2 separate regions of the Homo sapiens genome follow, and region 2 is linked to region 1. Evidence: fine-mapped expression QTL. Tissue or cell type: whole blood. Region 1 holds a variant in brackets; the other region holds the start of a gene. All regions are shown on one strand. Distances are between the middles of the regions.

Region 1 (4,166 bases):
AAGGCTCATCTCATGAAAGCTGTCTATGTCACCTGTCCCAGAATGTGTTGATTCTAGTCTGAAATGCATGCCAAGTTATCCCAACCACTTAAAACCATCAACATTAGAAGATAGCCAGGAAACGGACTGAGGCCCAAATAGAACCTCTTTTTTTAGCTTTCCTGGCAAAATAGGAGCTGTAGGTTCATAGATCATTTATAAAAACTTTGACTCCATCAAACTTACTAATCATTTTATTTAAAATAGAGCTCATCTCTACAGACATTCCTTATTTAGAGTATAACATTTTCCATTCTCTTGGTTTAATTATTTTATAAGTGACAAGCTGGGCTAGACGTTTTCCTTCCCAGACATTTATTTTGTTCTCTGGAAAATATTTCCTGCCTCTCTTTACCTAGATAATTCTTACTATTTCCTGCCTCACAACTAGGCATCACCTGCATCAGGTCCACTTTAATTATCTGAGAATCTGCCTCTGCCTCCTACCCACTGGACTGTAAGGAACATGAGGGTTGAGACCTTGTACCTGGTCTGGTTACTGGCATGGAAAAAATGCTCATTAAATGTTTAAAGAATGAATGAATGTACGAATGAACACTGGGAACAACTTCTTTTTATTTCTTCAACAGAATTTAGGTCACACAAGTTTTAAAAATTCATGCAGATCAGTTTCTTTTTAAGTAGAGAGATGCTTAATACTCTTATACTCACTCCTTTAGAAAAGATTGAACTGCTATATACCGATCACTTTTTCTCACCAAGATTTTTCTTCGCTAAATTTAAAACATATAGAAAGTTATAAAACTAATATAATAAATACCAAAATTCCCACCACATAGAATTTTAACTTAATATTTTCTCCTATTTGCTTCCAGTTATTTTTTAAAGATATAGATACAAGTAGAGGTCCCTTCCAACAGATACACTGTGTCAGTCATGCACTTACCACCTTTCAGCTCCAAATTCACCCTTTTTTGCCTGCTCTATGCAAACAGATGTGGGCCCTTTCAATACTTTGCCAGCTGGAACAATGCTAAACTTTGTCAGTAGACTAGACAGAAGGAGAGGGTTTTGCCCCTTGGTTCAGGTGTGCTCCTGCAGACTGGCAGCTTCCCCAGTGTCCAGCTCCTTTAGAGCACATGGTTTCCCCAGGACCCAGCTCCTGCAGAGCTCATAACCTCTCTAGTTCTCAGCCTCTGCAAGGCATGGCAGCCAGCAGCACCCAGCAGCAGCAACTCACCTCCCTACCAGCATCCTTGAGTAGTTTCGTAGCTCAGCCCTTCCCTACAAGCAGCTTTCCCAGAACCGTCTGGGGCAGATTTCTGACTAATGTGACTAGCACAGCACCACAGGGACTTCTCCACAATCCAGTGAGCCATGGCCACATCCTCTCAATAGGCTCTGGATCTCAGCCCTTTTGAGGGGACAGGCAACTTCTATCTCAGACTTAAGCATAGAGGCTGCTGCTTATATTTGTTATTTCCACACTTTTTAGGGTTCTTGTTTTACTAGTCAATGCCTCATTATTCCAATCCCTTGTTATACCTAATTCTTTTATATTCAACTTTCCCTGTTTAAATTACTGTCTGGTTTCTTTCTCCTGATTGGACCCAAGCAGAAATAGATACAAAGGGTCCTTTCAATAGGAATATAAAATTTATATTTTTCTTGTAAGGTATAAAATTAATCAGTATAGCTGCTGTAGCTTCTTCTACATCTAGAGGTATGATAGGAACTGATATGCCTGTACTCTCTGTCCTGCAAGTGCCAGAGGGGATGATTCTGATTGGGAAAAGCCACATGTAGAGACATGCTAGCACCCTTGGAGATTCACACACTCCTGGTTCCTTTGAGCTTCAGGTCATGGTGACCAATGATTATGCCAAATGGGGTCCCTGGCAATGGGAGACACCCTCCACCCAAACACATGCCCAGAAGTGTTGAACTTGTCACTTCCCTGTTGTGACTACCAGGCATACTCCTTCTGAAAATCAGCTATCAGCTTGGTCTTGTCCTCTAATTGAAACTGCACACCTGACCTATAAAGGCCTTGTGACTCTCTGGTCTGTTTAAACTCAGACTCAATCGCTAACATGGTGAGAAGGGTCCAACAAGCCTAGGCTGGAAAATGGAATTTGGACAGCCTGGCCCCAGCAGCATCTCGGCTGTACACAAAACAGTGGGCACAAGCCCTCTGAGGGAAATTTTATCTCCTATTCACCACCTGAGGCGAAGCTGTGGCTCCATGGGGCCCTCACTTTACAGAG[G/A]TTCCCCTAAATGCATGGGCCTGGGTCACTGATGGTTTTTCCAAGCTGAACCCCAGTGGTGTCCCCTGAGCTGCTGTGACTACACAGATCCAAAAACAGATGTGAGCTGTCTGCTCAGAAGGCAGAATGCATGGCTGTTCTTGCAGGTCTGGCCAAGACTGCCCTTGATGCAACTTGCCCTATTTTTAGTCATTCTTGGGCTGTTGTCAACGGCTAAGCATTTGGTCAGCCACTTGGAAAACTACAGATTCCAGATGAACAGCATCCCGTTTGCAGGTCACAAACTGTGGAAACAAATCGTGACTGCTGAGAGAAACATCTGGGTCACTCACATAGATGGAAATGATCAAGGCCCCTTCTCTGATGAGACCGATTAGAGCCAAGCTGCCGGTGGAGCCTGCACTAAGCAGATGGCCACGTTGCTCTCTGGACCCATCGCTGTGCTGGATGTGGGAACGCACCCACCACTGTGGATGGCACAACGTGCAGGACTCCATGTTTATGATGCGGGGGCTCCCACTGGAGCTCCTGCCACAAGTTGACCTACTTGTCTCACAATGGTGTGGCCTCGTGGCAGGGATGCTTTCCCTGCTGCCGCCCACAGCCTGACCTTTGGGCCCTTCATGGGACTATGGTGGTGCCCTGCTACTCTTGACACCTTTTCAGGTGGTGGTGTTATTGTTCTAGTTCCATTAACCAACTCTGGCCACATCATTGTGGCCCTTGAAGATAATCTTTGCCATATTTTCAGCTCTGTGAACCACCAGCAAATAGCTACTTGATGGCCCTTTCTCTCCTTACCACCCACAGGCATCTGATGTTGTTGATCATTGGAGCAGCCTCCTAAAAACTTGATTTAAAAGATTTCTGACCGTATTCCTGGTCCACACTCCTTAGCCAGGTAGTTTGGTCATGTACGTGGCTCATTATTGACTGAAATGCCATTATAGGCCACACTAATAAAAGACACAAAGTTGACTTAAACAATTGGAAAAACATAATACGTTCTTGATAGGAGGACTTAATTCCTTAAGATGTAATTTCCCCCTTACTATATAAATTTGATGCAATTCCATTAAAAACGCTGATTTTGCCCTCTGGAGCTAGATTATAGGGTTTGTATTTTAAAAAAAATTAATAGGCTAGGCAAGGTGGCTCATGTTTATAATCCCAGCACTTTGGGAGGCCAAGGCAGGTGGATCACTTGAAGTCAGGAGTTCAAGATCAGCCTGGCCAACATGGCTAAACCTTGTCCCTACTGAAAATACAAAAATTAGCTGGGCGTGGTGGTGCACGCCTATAACCCCAGACACTTGGGAGGCTGAGGCAGGAGAATCGCTTGAGCCTGGGAGGCAGAGCCTGCAGTGAGCCAGGATCATGCCACTGCACTCCATCCTAGACGACAGAACGAGACTCTGTCTCAAAAAATAAATGAATAAATAAGTAAAATTAATAAACAAGACTATCAAAGAAAATTTTGGAAAAAGCGCAATGTGGGAGGCTAATCCCATCAGTTATTTAAAACATTATAAAACTTCTATATTCAAAGCTTCATGGTATTGATATGTGATAGAAAAACAGGCCAAAGTTCGCATTTGAATAGCACAACTGGAAACAGACATATATGGTTATGGAAGTTTAATAAATAGTGAAGGTATTATCTCAAGTCATGGGGAAGTTTTGAATTATTTCATAAATAATATTGAGCTATGTGGGAAAAAATACACAGGAATAAATTCCAAATGGATGAAATCTAAATGTAAATAATGTAGCTATAAGTACTAGAAGGCATGTGTTAATTTCTTTATGACTTGAGAATTAAGAAAACTTTTTAAACCATCATTAAAAATCCAAAACCAATGTCTAAAAGATGTACAAATTTTGGCTGAGCATGGTGGC
Region 2 (4,166 bases), 140 kb after region 1:
TTTTTAAACGCTGTGTCTTCAGATAGTCACATTCTGAGGTACTCAGGCTTCCACAGATGAATTTTGGAGGACACAATTCAGACCATAACACAAGGCAACATATGGTTCAGATGAGATCTGAATGAATGATCAGCCTAACCTCCAAGCAGATTCTTTCAGCAGACTGCAAGGTGCACTGGAGAGCTTTAGACTAGAGGCTTAAGAGGTCATTTAGGCAATATTTACAGAACTGCTAAGTGCCAGGATTGGGGGATGTAGCAGTCACGAAAATCGTTCTTCGTTTCAGTAAGTTTACAGTTTACCATGGGGAAGAGACAAATACTGAACAGGCAGTTATATTACTCTCAGTAAAATAACAACTGGGAACAGTTTCTGGGGATTACTTTACATATGGAGGAAATGCAAAAAACACTTTGTCAGGATTATTCCTGTAGCAAATTAGATGTGACTAGGTCAACCAAACATGGCCACTGTGAACCATCTTATTGAGCATAGAAGTGGTTTTGCTAAAAATGGATTTCTCCACGGAGCACGGTGGCTCATGTCTGTAACTCCAGCACTTTGGGAGACTGAGGCAGGAGGATTGTTTGAGACCAGTTTGGGCAACAAAGCAAGACCCTGTCTCAAAAAAAAAAAAATCAGGGCGTGGTGGTGGGGGCCTGTAATCTCAACTACTCGGGAGGCTGAGGCAAGAGCATCACTTGAGCCTGAGAGGTGGAAGTTGCAGTAAGCTGAGACTGCACTACTGCACTCTAGCCTGGGCGACAGAGTGAGACCCTGTCAAAAAAATAAAAAATAAAAAAATAAAAAAAATCAATTTCCCGTATACTTCTGTTATAAAGAAGTCTTTAAAAAATTGCCTGCTCCCTTAAGTCAGCCTTTTCACTGAGTTTAAATTTCGTTCCAATTTGAACAAATATGGATGCTAATACTATCCTTTATAGTTACTAGTGCTAAGTGCGTTGCATGTAACACCTTGAATACTTACTGAAGTCTGCAAGGTTGGTTTTATGCCCTGATTACTGATGGAGACACAAATTCTGAACAACTGTGACTTCAGGGATGCTAAACACCATAGTGAGGCACGATGCGGGGATTTGAATCTTGGCCTGAGGGTTCCAGAGCTGTGGCCTTTTCTGGGGTTACTCTGTTAATTGATTTCTAGTCCTTTCTGATCTACAAGCCGCGGCATTATAACTTTTAGATGCTGAAGAAAACTAAACTATATGTCAAGGATTAAGGCTTGTGAACCCCCAAAATTTGGGACAGGTCTCAGTTAATTTAGAAAGTTTATTTTGCCAACGTTAAGGACGCGCAGCTGTGACACAGCCCCAGGAAGTCCAGATGACATGTGCCCAAGGTGGTTGGGGCACAGATTGGTTTTATACATTTTAGGGAGACAGGAGACATCAATCAACATATGTAAGTACACTGGTTCCTTCCAGAAAGGTGGGGACAACTCGGAAGCAGGAAGGGCTTCTAGGTCACAGGTAGATGAGAGACAAAAGGCTGCATACGAGTTTCTGATAAGCCTTTCCAAAGGAGACAATCAGAATATGCATCTATCTCAGTGAGCAGAAGGATGACTGACTAGAATGGGAGGCAGGTTTTGCCCTGAGCAGTTCCCAGCTTGACTTTTCCCTTTTGCTTAGTAATTTTGGGACCCTAACATTTTCACAGGCTTTAAATTTTATTATTCTTTAGTTACTACGTGCTAGCATATAAATAAATAGTACAAAACCAAGAAGGCATCCACCTTTTGGTTGTCTCTTCACGTGTAAAACAACACTTTGTGTTAAGTATCTTCACACACGGCGGCGCAAAGGTAGAAACCGATACTAAAAAAGCGTGTAGAAAATAGTTCCCAGCCTGGGCAACACAGGGAGACCTCATTTCTACAAAAATAATTCGCCAAGCATAGTGGTGCGCACCTGCGGTCCCAGCTACTTGAGAGGCTGAGATGGGAAAGTTGCTTGAGCTCGGGCAGCAGGAGTTCCAGGCTGCAGTGAGCTAAGAATGCGCCACTGGACTCCAGTATGGGCGACAGCGTGAGACCCTGTCTCAAACAAAAACAAAAGCCCGTTACTCCACCAAGAAGGCGCTTTTGCACATTGTTTTAATGCTTAACGCCTTCAGGATGCCAGCGTGACGGAAGCAAGTAACCACCAAGGCATCACCACTGGCGCTAAACTTCTCACTTCCGGAGTGCTGCAAGCGCAGAAAATATACGTCATGTGCGGAGGCGGAGCTTCCGCCCTGCGCGTCGTATTAGACGGAAACCGAGCGGGCCCATTTTTCATGGGTTTGCGGACCCACCAGCGAAGGCGGGAGGTGTCGCAGGGACATCTTCTGGCTGTTTCCGTCGCCTGCGTGGCCCTTGCACCCCGGTCTTCCATTAGCGGCGCAGACGTTTGGGCCTAAGCGCTGGGCGAGGCGAGGCCCTGCCCCTCCCCGCCAACGGCCATTCTCTGGACCTGTCTTTCTTCCGGGAGGCGGTGACAGCTGCTGAGACGTGTTGCAGCCAGAGTCTCTCCGCTTTAATGCGCTCCCATTAGTGCCGTCCCCCACTGGAAAACCGTGGCTTCTGTATTATTTGCCATCTTTGTTGTGTAGGAGCAGGGAGGGCTTCCTCCCGGGGTCCTAGGCGGCGGTGCAGTCCGTCGTAGAAGAATTAGAGTAGAAGTTGTCGGGGTCCGCTCTTAGGACGCAGCCGCCTCATGGGGGTCCAGGGGCTCTGGAAGCTGCTGGAGTGCTCCGGGCGGCAGGTCAGCCCCGAAGCGCTGGAAGGGAAGATCCTGGCTGTTGGTATCCTTAACGCCGCGTTGGGACTTGGGGTGCAGGGATTCGGGGCTGGATTCCTCGCGGGGCTCTGCCTTGGGCACAGTGGCATCTGCAGGATGATGGTCTTGGGTCGGGGTCGGGGTCGCTATAGAATCTCTGTCACTAGGTTTTCTAAGTACAGTCGTCCCTCGGTATCCCCGGGGCTTTGGTTCCAGCCCCTCCTCCGTATACCACGATGTTCAAGTTCCTTCAACTCCCTTATATAATGGCGTGGTATTTGCATATAAACTACCCACTTCCGTAATCTTTTAAATCGTTTCTAGCTTACTTGTAATGCCGAATGCAATGTAAGTGATCTGTAAATAGTTGTTATACTGTATTTTAAAATTTTTTGTAGTTTTTATTGGTATGTTTTATTTATTTATTTTTTTCCATCGCAAATATTTTTGATCCGTGGTAGGTTGATTGCGGAATCGGGTGATGAGGCGGGCCGCCCTGTCTGCTTTCCCCAGCTTTGCAGTCTTAGCGGCCTGTGCATCCTGGTTTGTCACTTTGTGGCAGTGCTTTATGTTCCTCTCTGCCTTAGTTCTCTCATCTGCAAAGTAGAGGTGGTGATAGTATCTACACACAGGATTGGAATGAGGAATAAAGAAATTGCCTACATGAGAGAAGTTTAGTGCGATTAATACAGTAAATCTTAAAGTTATTATCCTGTCCGGGAGGTCAGTAAGGAGAGCAGAGTAGACTTCGACGATTAGTTTTGCTTGAGTCTTGCCCCATTTATGTTTCTTAGAGGAAGGATAGTGTGGACAGGTGTTTTACCCATTTTTTAAATTGACTTTTTAAGGACTATTGTTTCTGTACATGTTTGGCTGGTTTTGTTTGTCATTGGAATTAAATTCTTTTTTCATTAGCAAAACGTGATACTGCTTTTGAAATTTTTATCTTTTTCTTTGTTATGTAGTCATTTTTTTTTTTTTTTTGAGTATCTATTCTGGCTCAGAATCTGGTGATACCTTACACCAATTTCCTAAATGGGGATCTATGAGTCTAGGGGCTCGTGGGCTTGTGGAAAGAGTCCTGTAAATGATTGCGGGGGGATTGGGGACGGGAAATGGAGTGCAAGAGTGTGTGGGCGTTCAGCAAAGGAATCCCTGACTGTGGAGCCCTAATTCTTCAGTAGGTACAAAACTTATAAATAAAACGACATTGATAAGTTTTAAAACATAATGAGATTATCATTTTTTGCAAGTGAATAATCTTTAAATAAATCTGTAATTGATTTTTGGCTTAAAAGTTTTTATACAGGGTACTTTGAATTGGGGAAAGCCAAAGGATTTTTGTTTTGTTTTGTTTTGTTTTTTGTTTTTTAGAGCACATGCGCT

Direction of the effects. Alleles are on the strand shown, and positions count from the first base shown. SD is a standard deviation of normalised expression in the study named.
In carriers of allele A in region 1, the expression in whole blood of the gene that starts at base 2,483 in region 2 tends to be higher than with G alone (large effect, 0.87 SD a copy in Lepik 2017).

The links. PIP is the estimated chance that this variant, and not a neighbour inherited with it, causes the effect.
Region 2: it holds the start of ERCC5, and the variant in region 1 is fine-mapped to the expression of ERCC5 in whole blood (Lepik 2017, PIP 0.95).

The regions. Positions count from the first base shown.
Region 1 is chr13:102,707,921-102,712,086 of GRCh38, forward strand. No RefSeq gene overlaps it. Among named protein-coding and RNA genes, the nearest start is that of METTL21C, 15 kb to the left of the region's middle. The variant G/A (reference allele first, on the strand shown) is at 2,268.
Region 2 is chr13:102,843,550-102,847,715 of GRCh38, forward strand. It overlaps ERCC5 (ERCC excision repair 5, endonuclease), which reads left to right and starts at 2,483. Exons shown (of 15, transcript NM_000123.4): 1 at 2,483-2,805. The coding sequence starts at 2,718. The region is part of intron 9 of BIVM-ERCC5 (BIVM-ERCC5 readthrough); the gene reads left to right. RefSeq lists enhancers at 1,413-2,237, 1,822-1,871, 2,082-2,871, 2,238-3,060 and a silencer at 3,222-3,271.